Linked DNA regions of Homo sapiens: region 1 is linked to region 2. The links come from fine-mapping of genetic effects on gene expression. Tissue or cell type: prefrontal cortex. Region 2 holds a variant in brackets; the other region holds the start of a gene. All regions are shown on one strand. Distances are from middle to middle.

Region 1 (2,825 bases), 160 kb after region 2:
AAGATCAGTTATTTTTAAGCATATAGCACATTGTAGTCATAATTAGCTCACCACCAGTTAGAAATATACATACACATTTTTCAAAATAAGTCTTTTAAATATAGTGTTGCAAGTATCTTTCTAGCTTAAGAATTTGAAATAGCAATTAAGTATGAACCTTAAATAATTCATCTTTATAACTAGAAGAGCAAGTCCCAAGGATGTAAATCTCACCCAATGAGACAAGGGATGCTGAATATATTATTAATTGCTAAGTAATCTCTTAATCTTAGAATCTAGCACCCAACACTAGCAAATAAATAATGTGATTTATGAGCCTGCACTCTCACGCTGCTTTACTAGAGTTCAATAAACACATGCAGATCCTAAATGTACAGTGTGAATGTGATTCCTACAAGCCAGAAAACATAGAAGGATTTGGCTATAGCAAATCTACCCCATCTACTTATTATTCAAGCACTAGTATTTAGAATACCTAAAATTCCTGCTGAACACTGCGGATCAACGTCCCCCTGAGGTTCTCCAAAGCAGAACCACATCTCTTCCCCTCAGTGCTTACTGAGTTTTAAGAAGGCAGGTAACATGGGGTAGAAATTCTCGTGCAGCAGCAATATAACTCTTCTCTCCCAATTTTCAAAAATCAACACCTCCTCCCCATACACACGCACACACACACACACACACACACACACACACACACACACACACAAGAAAGGAGGGCTTTTTAAATAAGTGTTTAAAACATACCATTTGCATGGGTGTGAAAAATGTATTTTTCCTCTACTTGCTGTTGTTGTGTAAGATATTTACAGATCTGACTAGAAAATCTGGATGTTCATAGGAAGTGTTGCTTTCAATGAGATTCCTTTAGTGAAATCTGTCCGCACAGACACATGTATACATAAATAATACATATTTATGCACACATGCCTACATTAACAAGGACACATGCACACGCACCTAGACCAATAATTAAGCCCACACTGTTCTATAAGCTCTTTTTGACATTTTTTGCATACATGTTAATTCAGAAGACAGATTTTTAAAAAATAATAAGCAGCTGCATATAATGCACATCAAAGTGGCACGTTTAGAAAAGCAAATACATTACCAGACGCATTTTGAAGTTTCTGGAACACCTGCAGGTGAAAGGAGACTGGATCGGATGCTGGCACACTGTATTCCTCAGAATCACAGAGCGCAATGTGACTGTGGGGGAATGTGAGGCGAGTGTGAGGCTGGAAACCTTTGAGTTGAGCTCACTCTAGGCATCAGAAAGCCTCAAAGAGGGGAAAGAAAAAGGCAGCCCACAGACAGCTAGATGAGAAACTTCTGGCACCTCTCCAGCTCAGGAATGAATTCTCTGTAATTTGGAGACGTATAGTGATGGAAATGAAGAGAAACTTGGATTTACGGGTGAATTTGCTCAGCCATGCAGAAACAGGCAGGTAACAGCCTCTCAGCTCATTTTAAAACAGTCATTGAGAAACAAGACTGAATCAAAAAATTAAGAGGCATCCTGCTTTTGAAAAAATGAAAAGGCTACTCCAGCCAGCTTCCCTAGATACCTTTACAAACTTCAAATGGATCATTCCATCAGCTATTTGTTGCGCATTTTATTAATCCCAGTGCAGAGGTAAACTGGAAAATCTAATTCCTTTTATGTAGAAAACTAGATTTATTGCTTCTTTTTATAATGCACTTTAGACATATAAACACATAGATTTACTTGCAGAGTTCTCGTTTCTCATGTAAAACCACTACTGTTTGGTCCAGATAAAATGCTAAAAGGCTTGTTCACAGCTTTTCAAGGAAGTGGAGAAAAAAAAATGTTTAATACTCAGAAGCTGAGCTGAGTACTGATATTTAAATGTACAGTTTGAAGCAAAGAGAATATAAAGGAAGAGCCCTGAAACATTAAGTGGTAGCTAAGAGGTACGATTATATACAAGCATTGAGCAGGCAGGTGGCTTAAGTCTATAAATTTATACATAATTAAGCATAGGAAGAAAAGAGATTTGGCAAATTAAGTTATTAGAGACAATAGCTGTTATTTTGTTTAGGTTTACAAATAGGCTAATAATTTCTGAGGAGTGCACGTGGACATCACCTTGTCTGAAGAACTCCTAAACCTCACAAATAGAGAGCGAGGTCGAAGGCATTGCACAGTGGCAATCTATATTCAAATGTAATGAGGAGGAGGACAATATTACCATGAAGAATGTTGTCATATTACATTGTGCCTGTGTGGCTTAACTACTCATCCAACCTTGCAAATGGCCATTTGCCTGGACTCAATAGCAAACGTGCTATTGATGGGTGGGAGGAGGTGGGAGGCTGATTTTATTTGTTTTACCAAGGACACTCCTTTGGGAGGTTCGGGGATAAAATGCCTGGGCTGAGCATGGGAGTCATTCTGTTCAAGGCCACACATGCCTATAGTAAATTTGAAGTGGAATTAATGATGACCAATTAAGCTATTTATTATTTTAACTCTTGAGGTCAAGGGCAGAACAGTATTTATGTTTATTGATAAAGAGTCAATGGTCAGACTGCTGCAGAAGGCCAGACTCACCTTTAAGCACGCTCGATTGATACGTATTGACCGAGGCACCGCCAGTCCCCCTCACATTCCACTGCTCAGGCCTGTTTGCCTAGATTCTGTTCTTAGCTCTCCACTGCCATTTGTTTCATCCATTTGTTCAACAAATATCCACTGAATTACACATCAGATGCTGTGTAGAACACAATGACCCTTAAGATGAGAACTCCCTCAAGGGGCTTACCATTGTCAAATAGTACCACAAGGGACTCAGCAGGGGATG
Region 2 (2,825 bases):
AGCAGGACAACTATAAAAATTCAACTGAGATCAAAATATAGGTATAGGCACAAGAGTGTAGATATTTTTACATTTCATGTATTTCTGCCTTCTGAGAAAATTATCCTAGAGACCATGCTTCAAGATGAGAACACAAGTACAAATAAGCACAGAAGCCAACAAATAAACACCTCTCAGAAAGCAGACAGAATAGCAAATGTGGATACGTGAATCCATACACCAACTCTGGGTTTCTTGCACCAAAGCACAAAAAAAAAGTGCAGGCAATCAGAACAACATGTAACTCCCAAATTGTTTATACCTGATTCTGGAATGCATTTTGTTGTAGTGTAGCAAACACCATCCAGATTAGATTTTTTTGCTTAGCAGGGTTAGAAAGTGAGTTTGCATTTCTTATGTATTTACTAAGTGATGTTGTGAAGAAGCAATCCAAATGCATGCTGGTAAGAGCTCCTAAAATGCCCTGCAGCCCTTCATACCGATCTATCTCCCCCTTTCTATCCCCTCCACTACCACCCTTGTTCAGGGCCTTGATTCTTCTCTCTGGGACTATTTCATTGTGCTGCCTAATTGCTTTTCTTTAAGTACATATTCAACAATTTAAAACATTATTTTTATTATTGTAGAGACAGGGTTATACAGGCTGGTCTCTATCTCCTGGTCTCAAGCAATGTTTTTGCCTTGGCCTCCCAAAGTGCTGGGATTACAGGCATGAATCACCGTGCCGGGCCCATCTCCAATAATTTAACTCTTCTGCTCATAAACACTACTGCTAACTTAAACAAAAACAATCTTCGGGATTAAAAACATTCCTAACTCCCTAGCCACAGGATTGCTTCTCTTATACCTTCTGAAATTCTTCAAAATTCATTTGAAATGTGATTTTATATATTTTAGTATTTCCTTCTGCAACTAATTCTATGTCATTTCTTTGAACTATTTTTATTACTACTAACATTAATTGAATTTTACTAGGCTCCAGGCATGTTGCATGAATTATCTCTTAAAAATTATCACAGAAGCCTTATAAAAATAGCAAAATATGCCATTATTATTCCCATTTCTTGGATAAGAAAACATACCTAGGAGAATAAGTAACTTGTCCAAGGTCTTATAGCAGAAATGAGGTGCCAATATAATAAGCAGTCTGATCCCAGAATCTAAACTGTATCATCTGCACTCTTTTCCCATGAATGACTTGGGACTTACACCAGTGTGAGTAGCAGCAGTATCTCACTCATGGCATTTGTAAAGAAGTTGTAATGTTCTGCAAACTGCTCGGATTTATCATTTAAATTAGATGCGTCATCTAATTACTGTCTGATCTTAGAAAGCAACTCCTTCC[A/G]TTTAGATCTCAGTTTCATCATGTGTAAGATGATGATGGCAATGCCTCCTATACAATACTATGTGGGGATTAACTAAAATAACATATTTAAAGGTGTTTTGTGTACTCTAAAGTGCTGGTCATCCACAGAGAGATTCCTTAAGTGTCACACCAAGGATAGCAATTATGTCTTACTTGTCTTGTCATTCCTGTGGTGTCCAGCTCTGCTCCATTCCTGTGTAATCTTGGGCTGTGTGACTCCTTTGAGCCTCAGTTTTATCATCTGTAAAATGGGGACACTAATTGTACCAAATTTCAAAGCTTGATGATTAAAAATTCAGTCTTGCACCAGGCAAATAGCAGGTGCTCGATGACATTAGTTATTTTAACTATCACACAGATTTTTATTATTATGTATCTCAGACTCTTCAAAACATGGATGTTAACCTAAGTATCCTCCCCTGGCTCACTCTCAACCCATTTCCCATTAGTTACCCAGTTTTGCCAAATGGCCTCTGGAACACCATCTATTCTACTTTCCTTATTTGAAGACTTATTGCCTGCCAGAAGGAGCAACCTGAAATGCCAAACTCATCAGGACAGTCAACTCCTTGGAACCTTTCTTGACCCCCCTCACCTAGCAGATAGAGCCTAAGCCCCTGGGCCTGGCAGGACTTCATACCAAGTTCTGTGTGACATGCCCTCTCTTTCCATCCCCAACCGACTTAATTCTCTTGGAACATAAACGTGTCATCAAAACCCAGAATGAGATCATGAACTCAAAAACTTGGGATGACTCAGTCCAGATGTGGGTTCAAAAAAAATCGATAAGAGAGTCTTTTAAAAAAGAAAGAAAAGGTTAGTAATATATTGCAGTGTCTATATTATCATTAAATAGCGCAGCATTACCTCAATTATCTGGAGAGCAGTCTCTAGGAGAGCATTATATATTGGAACAAATCTCTATACCTGGATGTTAAGTCCTATCTGTCCCAGAAGATCTGTCACACAGCTCTCAGCCAACCCCCACCTATTTTACCTGAAAGTTTTCATTTAAAGTCCTCTTTAGGAATGATTCTTTCCCACACAACAATAGTGGGAGACTTTAACACCCCACTGTCAATATTAGATCAACAAGACAGAAAATTAACAAGGATATTCAGGACTGGAACTCAGCTCTGGACCAAGTGGAACTAACAGACATCTACAGAACTCTCCACCCCAAATCAACAGAATATACATTCTTCTCAGCACCACATAGCACTTACTCTAAAATTGACCACATAATTGGAAGTAAAACCCTCCTCAGCAAATGCAAAAGAACAGAAGTCATAACAAACTGTCTCTCAGACCACAGTGCAATCAAATTAGAACTCAGGATTAAGAAACTCACTCAATGAGCTGAGATCACACCACTGCACTCCAGCCTGGGTGACACAGGGAGACTCCATCTCAAAAAAAAAAAAAAAAAAAAAAAGAAAGTCTCTCAAAACGGCACTAC

Alleles and levels. Alleles are on the strand shown, and positions count from the first base shown. SD is a standard deviation of normalised expression in the study named.
With allele G in place of A in region 2, the expression in prefrontal cortex of the gene that starts at base 1,234 in region 1 is higher (moderate effect, 0.52 SD a copy in ROSMAP).

What was found. PIP is the estimated chance that this variant, and not a neighbour inherited with it, causes the effect.
Region 1: IQCJ starts here. The variant in region 2 is the best candidate, but not a certain one, in a credible set for the expression of IQCJ in prefrontal cortex (ROSMAP, PIP 0.75).

What each region holds. Positions count from the first base shown.
Region 1 is chr3:159,067,728-159,070,552 of GRCh38, reverse strand. IQCJ (IQ motif containing J) reads right to left here and starts at 1,234. Exons shown (of 4, transcript NM_001042706.3): 1 at 1,112-1,234. The coding sequence starts at 1,120. IQCJ-SCHIP1 (IQCJ-SCHIP1 readthrough) reads right to left here and starts at 1,234. Exons shown (of 10, transcript NM_001414413.1): 1 at 1,112-1,234. The coding sequence starts at 1,120.
Region 2 is chr3:159,232,428-159,235,252 of GRCh38, reverse strand. All of the region lies in intron 1 of IQCJ-SCHIP1 (IQCJ-SCHIP1 readthrough), which reads right to left. The region is part of intron 1 of IQCJ (IQ motif containing J); the gene reads right to left. Among named protein-coding and RNA genes, the nearest start is that of SCHIP1, 39 kb to the left of the region's middle. The variant A/G (reference allele first, on the strand shown) is at 1,346.